Linked DNA regions of Homo sapiens. The protein of the gene in region 1 interacts with the protein of each later gene in a pairwise test. Each region holds a gene or a part of one and is shown in the gene's direction. Other genes may lie near its edges. The genes, in order: ADCY2 and GNG2.

The links.
Region 2: the proteins of ADCY2 (region 1) and GNG2 come close enough for resonance energy transfer, tested with the Homo sapiens proteins (one study listed by BioGRID).

What each region holds. Positions count from the first base shown.
Region 1 is NC_000005.10:7,828,360-7,830,581, forward strand, and holds the end of ADCY2 (adenylate cyclase type 2), read left to right. Parts: 3' UTR 1-1,722; downstream 1,723-2,222. UniProt on the Homo sapiens protein: Catalyzes the formation of the signaling molecule cAMP in response to G-protein signaling. Down-stream signaling cascades mediate changes in gene expression patterns and lead to increased IL6 production.
Region 2 is NC_000014.9:51,863,289-51,867,323, forward strand, and holds part of GNG2 (guanine nucleotide-binding protein G(I)/G(S)/G(O) subunit gamma-2 precursor), read left to right. Parts: intron 1-4,035. UniProt on the Homo sapiens protein: Guanine nucleotide-binding proteins (G proteins) are involved as a modulator or transducer in various transmembrane signaling systems.

The sequences.
Region 1 (2,222 bases):
GACTTTGAACACATCTCTTAGTCCCTCTTAGGAGTACTTTCCTTATTGGCAACTTATGGACTCGCTAGTGATTAAACGAGGCAATGACTGTGAGCGAGCCTGGCAGGTGCCCCGTGGTACATTCACAGCACGGGCACAGCTGCTGTGCCAGGACTGTGACTCATTCCCAGTAAAAGGCACTTATCGAAGCTGATAACCGTCCTTCATCACCGAAGTGTGAGTAGAGCATGACTTATTTAGTATTCTGCCTCAATGGGGAATTTTTTGATCCTGTAATCACAACTCAGCATTGGCCTTAATATACCTAAATCTCCAAAAACAGTGATTAAAGCAAGAGAATTATTACAAGGGCTTTTCTCTTTCCTCTAACTCATTCTTCACGGATGCCGTAGCGTTTCCGTGAGCTCAAACTGGCCTTGGTGTAAAATGTGTAAGGATGAGCAGCAGGCGTGCCTCGTGGGTTCTTCCTCTGTTACATCCTGCTACACTCATCCGCAGGTCACCTTAGTTCACCTACCCTGAGTGAACACCCCCAGCTGGGTGGTCCACCAAGTTCTCATAAACAGAGTCCCTCCCATTCCCCCACGGGGTGCACCGAACTTGGGTTTGCGCTAAAAAGAACTCAAAAGGAGAACTGTGCTCTCCCAAAGCCATATCACCAGTCTTACCAAACAATAGGCTTTTAAAAGCATTGAGTCATTGTCAGAATCCACTATGGGAAGCTCTGTGTGTACCTGGTCCCTTCTAGGTGTGGTCCCATAGGAGCAGCCTTAGCATCCCCTGTGAACTTATCAAAAATGCAAATTCTCAGGCCCCAACCTGAAGGAGGACCCTGAATTTGAGATCCCCGGGGCTGGGGCCCAGCACAACTGCTGTTTAGTGAACAGGTTCTCCAGGTGATTCTGATCCCTGATCAAGCTTCAGACCTCCCTCCCTCCCCAGTGTTTTTGCAGGTGAGGAAACAGGGGCAGAGTAATTCAGGCACATGTGTTCAGAGTTCCACAGTTGATTAGCAGTTGAGGCCAGGCTAGAATGGAAAACTGCCTGTTCCTTGAATCTGAAAGAGCATTATTCCTGGTCAAAGCTCCTTAAAGTTCTGGGCAGCTAAAAGCATCCCTGTGAGCAAAAATGCCAGGCAGAAAACTGGCAGTGCACCTCTCATCAGCCCAGGTCCCAGTGCCATTGGCTTCAAGAAAAAAAAAAAATCTCTCCCCAATGCTCTCCTTAACCTTTAAGTCTTACAGGAAGCCTCTCATAGAAATTGCCTCCAGTCCAGTTTCCCAAAAACCCCAGTGTTTTACATATCTGTTTAGGAGTGTCTAAGTTTTGTCATCAATCCAGGATGTTATTCTTCCTTCCCAACTCACTGTGCTCCTAAAGGCAGCAACCATTCATCTTTCCTTTGCTCTGGATACACCGAATGACCAGGTAACATCATCAGGCCGGGTGCAGTGGCTCCTATAATCCCAATATTTTGGGAGGCCGAGGAGAGAGGATCACTTAAGCCCAGGAGTCTGAGACCAGCCTGGGCAACATAGCAAGACCCCCATCTCTGCAAAAAAATAAGAAAATTAGCTTGGCATGGTGGCACGTGCCTGTAGTCCCAGCTACATGGGAGGCTGAGGTGGGAGGATCACTTGAGCCCAGGAAGTCCAGAACGTAGTGAGCCTTGATTATACCACTGCACTCCAGCCTGGGTGACAGAGCGAGACTCTGTCTCAGAAAAAAAAAGAAAAAAAAGAAAAAGCAACATAATTGCCCAGTGATGAAAATTTGATAAACCAAAACAATCCATTAATATAAGAAGATATGATGTGTGATGGCTTTAACAAGCATTCATGCATTGGCTTTAAATGATAAACATTGGGATACCGAGAGAAATATACTTCATTTTCTCTTATGGCCTAACAAATGTGAGATCTTTTGAAATCTTGGCCAATTACAGCCCTGCCTTTTGAAAGTCAGTATGTAGTAGAAGGTGAAGGGAGTAAGGTCTGACTGAAAGTAAATGAAAATAATTTAGTTTGACTTTGATTTATTACAGTCACTTACAGATGCCTTGTCTTTGTTGAAATCAAGTCTGAATAATGAATAATTTATAAATATTTCTATAACCCAAACTTTATATATTTTCTATTATGTTACTATAAATATGGTATAATGCACCCAAAGGCATTCGAAATAAACTACTGCCATTTGTTTGAAATAAATAAAAGACACCT
Region 2 (4,035 bases), on another chromosome or scaffold:
TTGGTACATTAACTTAGGAACCTCAGTTTCCTCATTGTAAAGAAGGGCTAGTAATACATAATCAAAGTTGTTGTTTTGCTTTGTTTTTGCTTTTGTGTGCGGATAAGTGAGTGATTTCTACATAGAAGGTACTGAAATGTTATTTTTTTCTTCCTTGGTGGCATAAGGAAAAGTTAGCATATTCTTGGTCTTTACCACTGCCTCACAGGTTTAGGGAGACTTTTTTTATAGTGATAAAATATACATAACATAACATTTCCCATTTTAACTATTTTTTTAAGTATGCAGTTCTGTGGTAGCGAGTACATTGATGTGCTGTCATCACCACCGTCCATCCATAGAACTGTCTTTATCTTGCAAAACTGAAATTCTATACCCATTAATCAATACCTCCTCTTTCCCTCCTTCTCTCAGCTCCTGGAAACCCCCATTTTACTTCTGTCTCTATGAATGTGACCAAGTATCCCATATATGTGAAGTCATACAATATTTGTCCTTTTGTGACTGGCTTAATACACTTAGCATAATGTCTTTAAGATTCATCAATGTTGTAGCATGTGCTAGAATTTCCTTCCTGTTTAAGCTGAATAATATTCCATTGAATGTATAGACTATACTTTGTTTATTCTCTTTTGATGGACACTCGGGCCATGTTTTGGCTATTGTAAATAATACTGCTATGAACACGGGTGTACAAATATCTGTTAGAGTCCCTGCTTTTACTTCTTTTGGGAACCCAGAAGTGAAAATGATGGAACACAGTAATTATATATTTAATTTTTGAAGAATTGCCATACTGTTTTCCATAGCAGCTGCACTATTTTACATTCCCACCAGCAATGAACAAGGATTCCAACTTCTCCACATTCTCATCAATATTTATTTTGTTTTTTATTTATGTTTTTGATAATAGCCATTTTAAGAGGTATGAAGTGGTATCTCTTTATGGTTTTGATGAGCATTTTCCTAATCACTAGTGATGTTGAGCATCTTTTCTTGTGCTCATTGGCCATTTGTATATCTTCTTAGAAAAATGTCTATTCATATTCCTTGCTGATGTTTTTCCCCAGAAATACTGTGTTGAGAATATTTGCAAATTTTTAATCAAATTTTTGAAGAGACATTTGCAAATGGCAGGATCTTTTAACATAATGTGTCATTAGATAATAATCATAATCTTCGTATTTAACCTCCTTTATACAACAGTATTATCCCTGCGTAAATAAAATACTCCTCTCAAAAGTAACATTTGAAATCAAAAGGACAGAGTAAGAAAATGTGCATAGCTTCTGCTAGTTGGTGATGTCCAGAACCTGATAGTGAAATTCAAACCTTTATTGTAGACAGTCACACCAGTGATTCTGCTGGTCAAATCTCAGACCAGGCTACCACTACGGAGGCACTGGAGAGCTGTTTCTTCAGTGCTTTTCTGGTCCCCTCATTAGAGAAAAATGCTCAGTAGGTATCATGGCCAGAAAGGGAGGGGAGAAACTAAAGTACTAAATTGCTCTGAAATCCTTTATAAGGGGGAGCAGTAACTTGTGGGGAGGGGCTACAGTAGTTAAACAATACAACAAGTTTCTGAGACAACAAGTTTCTACTAATGAAGTGTGATCCTAACCAAAATTTCACTTTTAAAAATAATGAATCCTCTGTTTCCTTTTCCACGACAGATTTTACTCCTAATCCTTAAACTGGTGAGGCAGGGTATGGTGAGGCTGAGGAGAGCTGGGCAGAACAATTAGCAGGGACCCTATTGAATAGCAACAGTATCTGAGCTTTACGATGTGGGGTCAGACGTTGACCTTGAATGGTTTGAAGAGCTCCTGAATAATTAATGTTAACTTTCTGTAATGCACTTTGTCCATGTGCTGGGGGCCAGGGGTGGAGGGAAGTTTGCAAATAATGACCCCTAATTTTATTTAATGTGCACATCTATTCATTCTACAATTACTGGGAGAAGCCAGGTGCCTGTCTTTACTAGATCTGGGTGGGAGAGGAGAGTTGCAGAGCTGTGTCGAGATTTAGTCTCCACCCTCCCACCCTCACCTCCAAGATGATGACTATGTTAATTAGCCTGATTTGATCATCACAATGTATACATGTATCAAAACATCACATTGTACCCCATAAATATACACAATTTTTATTTTTCAATTAAAAATATAATAAAAAATTTATAAAGGACTTAGTCCCTGGCCTAGGACATGCTAGAATGGTAGAGCTAAAAATGATCTGGGGGGTGACCTAGCCTATATTGACCTCTTCATAAGGGATAATAAAATAGGCCTGGAATTTAGAGTTAAACAGTTCATTAATTCCTCACCTCCCAGTTACAACTCCATTTCACTTACCTCATATTAGGGCAAAGTCTTTATATGTTGTCACATTTAAAATTGTTTGTAAGACTAAAATATTTTGTTTAAAAAAAAAGAGTAGACGGTTTACATTTAGTACCCTATGTAAATATGGAGTTTCTGTGTACAAACTTGTTCAGGTGTGAAAGATGCCACTGTGGAATAGAGATTTAAATTTTCAGGTAAGAGTATTAGAGATATCTGTAAATATATGGTTCTTGAAAATTCTTATGTTAAAGACAACAAGTTGTATTTAGTGGGAGTCAGTGTTCAGACAATCTCTAGAGGACTTCATTAAACACTGAAAAAAAAAAAAGGGAGCTCAATTCTCAAACTTTAGTGATAACATGTTTCTTAGAAGTGGTACTACTGTATACAGAGGCTGGAGATAAGACAGGATCAGCCCCTTTATCTCTTGGCAAATATGTGTAAACAGTCAAGCTGTTAATGAAAAAGCTTTGAAAAACCAGTCTCTTGACCACTTCTTCCCTGTTCCCTGGCCTTCCCTTGCTCCCTGGCCAGCCCGGGTGTGGGGTCAGGCATTCCCCTGATCCTCTTCCCAGGAACCCAGCACTCAGAGGTAGAGGAGAGGGGCTGAAAACTGGGCTGACTGGTTCTACTCTAGATTCACTGCATCTCCGCAGGGCCATTGCTGTTCTTTCAAAATTCTTTCCTTCTTCCTTTTTTATTTCACTTTTCACTCTGTCCTGTGCATTTTCAATGGAAACCATTCAACCAAGTCCCTACTGCCTTTGTGCGTTAGAAGTGACCTCACTTTCTGTCTTTCTGAGAAGGCACATATTACAGACTTCCTCAACCTCATTCTTACCACCTTAGAATTTCCCCACGTCTTCCTTTATTTTAGATCATTTGAATTGCTGTCACAAATTACCAAAGATGAGGTAACCCAGAAACAACAGAAATCTTTTTTTTTTTTTACACTTCTATGGGCTGGAAAGTCCAAGATCAAGGTACTGGCAGATTTGATGTCTGGCAAAGGCCGTGGACAGCACTTTCTGTGTGTCCCCACATGACAGAAGGGGCCAGCTGGCTCTCTCCAGTCTCTCTTATAAGGGCACTAATCCCATTCATGGGACTCCATACTCATGACCCAATCACCTCCAAAGGTGGCCTCATGTCCTAATACCATTGCACTGGGGATCAGGTTCCAACATATGGGTATGTAGGGGGACAGAAAGATCTGCGTCATTCACATCATTCATTCTCCTCTTCCTCCTAAGTCAAATTAACATCATCTTTCCTTTAAGCCAAGAATAAACCCTCTACTTGGACTCTCTATCCCATTCCCTTTTACTTTCTAAGGGATTATGTTGTGACAATAATTCTGTCTTTCCTACATATTTAGTTTCTTCTCTTTCTTGGTCCTTTCCTCTTTCCCTGTAAACATGCTTAGTTTTTCCATACGCACACAAAGTAATTAAGAAGTAGATGAAACAAATCTCCTCCTACCTCTCTGCGGGCTCCAACTTCACTAACTTCAGTTCCTGCTCCCCAAATATGAGTGTTCTCAAGATACGAGTCTTTGGCCATTTAATTTCTCCCTCTCCCTAATCAAATTCTGTCCTGTGATTTTAGTCACTGTTGCTGTGTGGGTCAGTCCCAAATCTGATGAAGCATCCTAATCATTCACCTCCTCTCTCAGCTTGTACAGCAAGCT